2 linked regions of the Homo sapiens genome follow. The protein of the gene in region 1 interacts with the protein of each later gene in a pairwise test. Each region holds a gene or a part of one and is shown on either strand. Other genes may lie near its edges.

What was found.
Region 2: the proteins of FHL2 (region 1) and POU6F2 interact in binary tests that used the Homo sapiens proteins (3 or more experiments, as listed by UniProt).

What each region holds. Positions count from the first base shown.
Region 1 is NC_000002.12:105,389,052-105,392,551, forward strand, and holds part of FHL2 (four and a half LIM domains protein 2), read right to left. Parts: intron 1,177-3,500; exon of another isoform or gene 1,056-1,176; intron 1-1,055. UniProt on the Homo sapiens protein: May function as a molecular transmitter linking various signaling pathways to transcriptional regulation. Negatively regulates the transcriptional repressor E4F1 and may function in cell growth.
Region 2 is NC_000007.14:38,980,909-38,984,408, reverse strand, and holds part of POU6F2 (POU domain, class 6, transcription factor 2), read right to left. Parts: exon of another isoform or gene 2,903-3,500; intron 160-2,902; exon of another isoform or gene 4-159; intron 1-3. UniProt on the Homo sapiens protein: Probable transcription factor likely to be involved in early steps in the differentiation of amacrine and ganglion cells. Recognizes and binds to the DNA sequence 5'-ATGCAAAT-3'. Isoform 1 does not bind DNA.

The DNA of each region.
Region 1 (3,500 bases):
AGATCATCTTTCAAGAATTCATTCTTGGATATTTCTGTGTTTACAGAATAATTCTCTTCCAAGAGCAATAAATATGCAGCTGGACACATGCGGCAAGATCCGTCCTTCTAAATCACTCTTCCTGGAGTTAAAGAAAACATTGTCTGGACATTCTTGTGATAACATCACAAGATGAGGCTCTTGAGCACTTGAATTATTATTCTGAAGCCCAACGTATAAATATCCTTTGTACCGCAGCCATCTCGAGTTGGAGCAGCCATGCTGGCACAAGATTCAATGCTTTCCTGTAATTGTTCAGTTATTGGCCTTGAAAGTTGCTGTCATTTATTTCATCACAATTGAGAGCTGTTTTTCCAACATATATGTTTTTCCAATAAAGGGTGTGATTTAGCTGTGGGACAAGAGGCTCACTGCCCATTCCATGCCCACAAACATAAGAATAATAATTTGGGAATTTGAAATAAGAACGATGAAAGGACAGAGAACTATAAATTGCGGAATTGTAAAAGCTGGAAACAAATCCCCAGATTATCTATGACAACTTCCTCATTCTATGGATGGAAAAACTGAAGCCCACGCATATTTATGAAAAAGAGGGTCCACTGAGCTTTCTCAAATAGCCGTCTGACTTACAGAAAATGAACTCCCAGTCTAACTTGAAAGGCCGTCTGTGTGGGTCAGGACAAGCACCAGCCCTGCTAGGGAAGGGAGACAGTCTACAGCCTCTGTTAATGTCTGCAGAGCTCCATTTATGTTGGCAGCTGGTGAAAGGGGTACACCTGTTTTCCTCTGAGGTAATAATCGTGATCACGGTGCTCATATACCTGATATGTGTTTTCCACTTCCTCTGATTCTACAGGACCAGGACAGAAAAAAACAAAAACAAAAAAAATCTGGCCAGGTGCGGTGGCTCACGCCTGTAATCCCAGCACTTTGGGAGGCTGAGGCGGGTGAAACACGAGGTCAGGAGATTGAGACCATCCTGGCTAACACGGTGAAACCCCATCTCTACTAAAAATACAAAAAAAAAATTATCCGGGTGTGGTGGCGGGCACCTGTAGTCCCAGCTACTTGGGAGGCTGGGGCAGGAGAATGGCGTGAACCAAGAGGTAGAGCTTGCAGTGAGCTGAGATCGTGCCACTGCACTCCAGCCTGGGCGACAAAGCGAGACTCCGTCTAAAAAAATAAAAAAATAAATCTAAGAGAATAAACTCTGAAAATAAGTAGGGCTCCACATTTGCTCAAAGTACGACTGAGGTTATGAATGTCATCATGGTGAATGTCATCATCAGTGATATGATGAATATCATTATCAGTGATACCAGCTCCCAGCAGGAACAGTAGCAGCTGCTATCTGCTCAGTGGGTCCACCTGGGAGGAGGCACTTGGCCCTGTGGTTCAGCTCCTAATTCTACAGAATTCTTTCTGAGAGTGGTGGATCCCTCTTCTACCTTGTTCCTCATCTTCTAAGAGGACACTAGAGTTCTACAAAGAGCAGAGAGCATTTCTACTCCAACCAACAGGGCAGAGCATAAAATGAGCAACTGCTGCTACCTAGGAGCACAGCAGGATGCACTGTGTGAAAGCAGGCCCCTGAAGGAGTTCCACACAGTTACATACTGCACAAGCCCTGAGCATCAGAATAAAAAGTCCATGAGCTAATAAGCAAGCTCAGAGCTTCCCTTCTATTACAACATGTTTAAAAGTATACCTATTGTCCTGTATTAGAAATCTCCTATAACTTGCATTTTTTTTTTTTTTTTGAGACAGAGTCTTGCTGTGTCACCCAGGCTGGAGTGCAGTGGCATGATCTCAGCTCACTGCAGCCTCCACCTCCCGGGTTTCAGTGATTCTCCTGCCTCAGCCTCCTGGGTTGCTGGGATTACGGGCACACGCCACCACACTCAGCTAATTTGTGTGTGTGTGTATGTGTGTGTGTGTATGTGTATTTTTTTTTTTTTAGTAGAGACGGAGTTTCACCATGTTGGCCAGACTGGTCTCAAACTCCTGACCTCAGGTGATCCGCCTGCCTTGGCCTCCTAAAGTGCTAGGATTACAGTCATGAGCCACTTGCATTTTTTACATCCCATAAATACCTGATTGCTCATTCATTCACTGAATAAACATTGGTTGAGCTGGAACTATGTGTCTAAAGTCATGAAAAGTGCAGAAGATACAAAGATGAATAAAATGCAGGCCCCTCCCCTCAAGGGACTTGTTATCTAGTGAGGAAAAGAGATATATACCAAACAGACTACCAAGCCCCTTACTCAGTGCGTGCTGGAGGTGCACAGGTATGATGGGCACGCAGAGGAGGAGCCCCTGAGAGAGCAGGCAGGCATCCCAGAGGAGATGCTATCTGTGCTAGGAACAGGTCAGCCAGGTGATATGGCAGGTCAGGTCAAGGGGTGGAGTAGGCAAAGCCAGAGACATGAGAGACAGAGTAGGGTAGGCAGAGAGCCCAGGAAGATGGAAGACCCAGTCAACAGCCAAGGCAATGAGGGCCTGGATGCCTTGTTCATGGACTTGGGTATGCCTCGCAGGCAGTGGAGAAACGGACAGCCCAGTGAAAGTTTACTGCATGGAAGCCTGCCTTTACTATGCAAGACAGGGGGCAATGACTCCTAAAAAATGTATCAGGGTATCAGAGCCCATTTCTGAATGATTTCTTCAAATAAAAGTAGGACATCTTGGTTCTACAAGGACTTATTAACCTAATTGTGTACAATCCATTTACTCTCTGTGAACTCCACATCCCTCCTGACAGGTTATCAATAATTCCTGCTCCTTAGCTGGTACACAGGAATGCTGAAAGCATCAGGCAACAGCCTGCAGGGAGATGCCCAAACATAAGGCGCAACCCCTCCTTTTTATTTCACTGAATCAAATTCCAAATCACAGTTTCCTGGAGTTCTTATTCCTCACCAAGCTAAATCATTCCATGATGTCATTACCCCTTCGGCCCTGAATAGGGTATTTGAAAAAGCTGGATCTTAGGGTACAGGCTTGACTCCAGGCCAAGGGAACTGCAATGGGTGAGGCAGGTGCCAGGTGCAGCTCGGAGGTCTGGGGATGGCCCAGGGAAGGCTTTGATCTCTGAGTCTCTCGCTAGCCCAGCTTTGACTCAGATGTAAGAATAGGTCGGGTACAGAGGCTCATGCCTGTAGTCCCAGTACTTTGGGAGACCGAGGCAGACATATCGTTTGAGCCCTGTAGTTCAAGACCAGCCTGGGCAACATGGAGAAACCCCATCTCTACAAAAAACACAAAAAATTTGCCGGGTGTGGTGGCATGCATTTGTAGTCCCTACTACTCAGGAGGCTGAGGTGGGAGGATCTTGAGCCCAGGAGGTCGAGGCTGCAGTGAGCCATGATAGCATCACTGCTCTCCAGCCTCAAGGAAACAGCCTCATGGTGACACAGACCATGTCTCCAAAGAAAAAAAAGAAAAAGAAATAAAAAGGATGTAAGAATAAAGGTTCAGAGGGCCAGGGAGCAACA
Region 2 (3,500 bases), on another chromosome or scaffold:
CAGTGCCCTTTCCTGCCTGGGAAGCCCACAAAGATTTCGCTTTTCACTTATTACTCATCAAACTGACTCTGGTTCACAGTGGAAAAGAGAAGAAAAGCTGATGGAGAAATGGCAGTGAAGAAGGAGAACAAAATGTCAGAGCAATACTTTTGAGCGACTATATCCTTTTCATTAAAGGTGTCAACACGTTTATTTGCATCTTTGACCCTAGGACTAGGGAAGTGCTGGAAATTATGTGGGTACTTTTTCCCATGGGAAAAATGTACCTCCTGGGTCGGGGGAAGGCTGAAAATAGGTGAAAGTGAGAATACTCAGTTGATCTTCAATTTTTTTTGTCTTATAATTAAAAAAGTGCTGTTGAAAGGAATAGGGTTGCATTTCACCTAGAATCAGTGCCAAGTATCAACAGCTAATGTCTGTCTTTTGAAGAAAGAATCTTTCATACCATGGGGGTTTTAAAGCTACTGATAAAACAAAAAGCTATTTTCTGAAGACCAGCCAACCTGAAAAACAAGTGTTTTAAAACCTAGAGAATTTCCTTTAATGTAAATAATCAAAGATGTTTTCAATTATTTTGCTATTACTTACATACAATGGTTTTACGTTTATGAGAAGTGCTATCCCTGAAATAACAATAATATGATCATTTATAAGTGGGGTGTGGAAAAATAACACAAGCATACAGAAAACCAGGAAGGAATTTTTCCAGTAAAAATTAAGCAATATTCACCACAATTGGCTCACATTGTGGAACTGGGAAGAACAAGAAAATAATAAAAAGAAAAATAAATCTTTACTGAAATGTAGTGATAGTGTTTCACTCGCAACCGCTTCTTCAAATTGAGATGCAGAAGAAATGTGTAAAAAGCAAAACTGGTACAAATCTTGATTACAATTTTGGATCAGTTTAAGACAATATGGCTCAACAGAGCAATTTACATAGGCTAACAGAGCAAACTTGAGTTGGTAATTTACTTTATTGGATACACATTTCACCTACAAAAAAAAAAAAAGAAAGGAGGGAGGCAGGAACAAAAGCAGAAAGGAAGAAAGGGATGTAGGGAGGGAGGGAAGGGAAAAAGAACATAAATCCAGGTTTGAGATTATATATAGAGCAGCTATTATCTCCCAAGTAAAGATTTGGCCATAAATTACAAATTAATTTAGAAGTTGTGTAATTTGGATTTTCTTTTAGCGTTCAAATTAAAGTCAATATTTATCTTTTTGCACATTGTTTCTTCAAGTCTGATCCTTTCATGTTTGCACTTTATGTCCCAACTTTATTTTCTACTCAATCAAGCATTAGAAAAGAGTAACAGCTTGTACAATATCACAATGCAATTGAAAAGTGAAGTTTTTCAGTATTTGCAGACATGTTAATTATATTCCAATTTTTGTAAGCAATAAAGAGAAAAATACTTGAAACTGGTAATATGCAGTTTACATAGCAAAGAAAAGGTCAGTGAAGAAACATCCTTCACTGACCTCTGAAACAAATATTATAGATTTTACACGCAGGAAACTTATTACATGCAAACTTTCTTTTGTAAGCATTTGTATTCTAAAAGTTGCAGCCACCTCTCTGCATATGTTAGAGGTAAGAATAAAAAAGTTTTAAGTTCTTAAGCATTGAAAATGATAATTGAATGGTACAGAGAGTTTCATTAATTGACCTTAGAGATAGAAAAGAAAATTTAGTTTCAAGACCCAAGTTCATCTAATTGTTGTTTAGTATTAACATTATTGGATAGTAGTATTACTATATTGTTAAATTTTACTTAAATGGACAAAATTGACTTTACCATTTAAATGTCTGCTTTAATTTTTAAAAATTCTAAACATAATAAAAATTAAGTCCATCTGGTGAAATGTAAAATGTTAACATAAGACTTTCCTATAAGTATGAATGAAATATTAAGTGAAGTTTTTTAGGTCAATAAACAATACATAGTACAAATTCAATTTTGGTCAGTCTGGAACTTACCAAAAGAATACTAGCACCAGTATGTATAAGAAAGAATAATCCTTAATTAATCTGTATTTTTTCTAGTATACCATCCATCCATAATACCTTGGGGAAAAAGTATTCTCAATAAAATTAAAGCAGTAATAATTTCACACTCCCAAAATACATAAATTTGTTGAAGCAATCTGTCAGTTTCAAAAATACAGGCATTCACACCCACAAAAATGACTTTTTTTAAGAGTATATGGGAATTATGCTTCACATGAGTAAAACAGGGTTAGGTTAGCCCCAGTGTTTCATTTTTATATGTAAGGCACGAATATCAGTCTAAATTGACAGAGGGCAATCTTCAAATGTGTTATGAGAGCCAGTGTCCCCTCTCCCTAGACCACTTGCATCACACATCAATTTGAGCATATTTTAGGTAAGCAAATTATTATTAAATCTACATTAAATACTTTTTGGAACAAGGGATGGTATAAACAAACCTCTATGTAAAATTAATTGTTTTGATGCTATAACGGTGAAATATTTGTGTGTTTTAAAATCTCCATATAAGAAAACATACATGGAGATACTGTTAAGCCAAATGCATGCACACATACTGAGCACTGTCTGAGACATTTGCATTAGTTTTCTGATGTACAACTTTACAACACTTCACATGGTCGAAATGTACTTTGAAAAATAAAAGACCCATTGTACCAGTAAGGGAAATTGTAAACAGCTTTTTACTGCACTTCTAATGCTATTAAAATATAGAATGTGTGGTCTCTTCTCTCTTCTACTAGTACTTTAGCAATGTCAACTGGAAGTGCATCCATGATCACTTTATCCAGCTGTCTCTCTCTCACTCCCAGCAAACTCTTAGATATACTTGATAAATATTTTCATCTAATTTGGTTCATCTGTTGTTTTTATTAACAACTAATTTAATATCCTCTGTTCTGCAATATTTGCAAAAGTCAGTCTATAGACGTGAAGCCAACAGGGACCCTCAGGCCTGTGCATCAGGATGGTGGGCTGCCTAAGTCCTCTGGGGACAGCAGTGCCAGAAGGAGTATTGGACACAGTGACCCGACTGTATGAGATGAGAAAAAACAAAAACAGGAGGTCCGCAGTACTGATGAACTAATCTGTCACTCACAAGCTCAGGTCTGCAAAAAAAAGAAACGAAGCACTAAACATGGCCATAAGAGATGGAAATGCAAGTCTTCATTTCTAAATGATAATCAAACCAACGATCAGAAACTGATTAACTGTGTAATTGAATTGAATTGAAAATCATCCCATGAATAACAATCCATCCTACCTTCAAGGGGTTAGGAAGCTAACTACAGGTAATTGCTATCAGAAATCTGATTTGATTTCCAAAAATTGTGTGAATGAACCAAGTTTCTTCATCTTGATATACTAGGCAGGGAGTTTGTTCTTCCAAGTACTAGACTGCTTAATTGCTTGCTTGGGGGAGGAGAAATCCTAGGGGAAAGGCATATATGAGCAATTTCTACTCTGTGAAGCCAGCGCTGTGTCC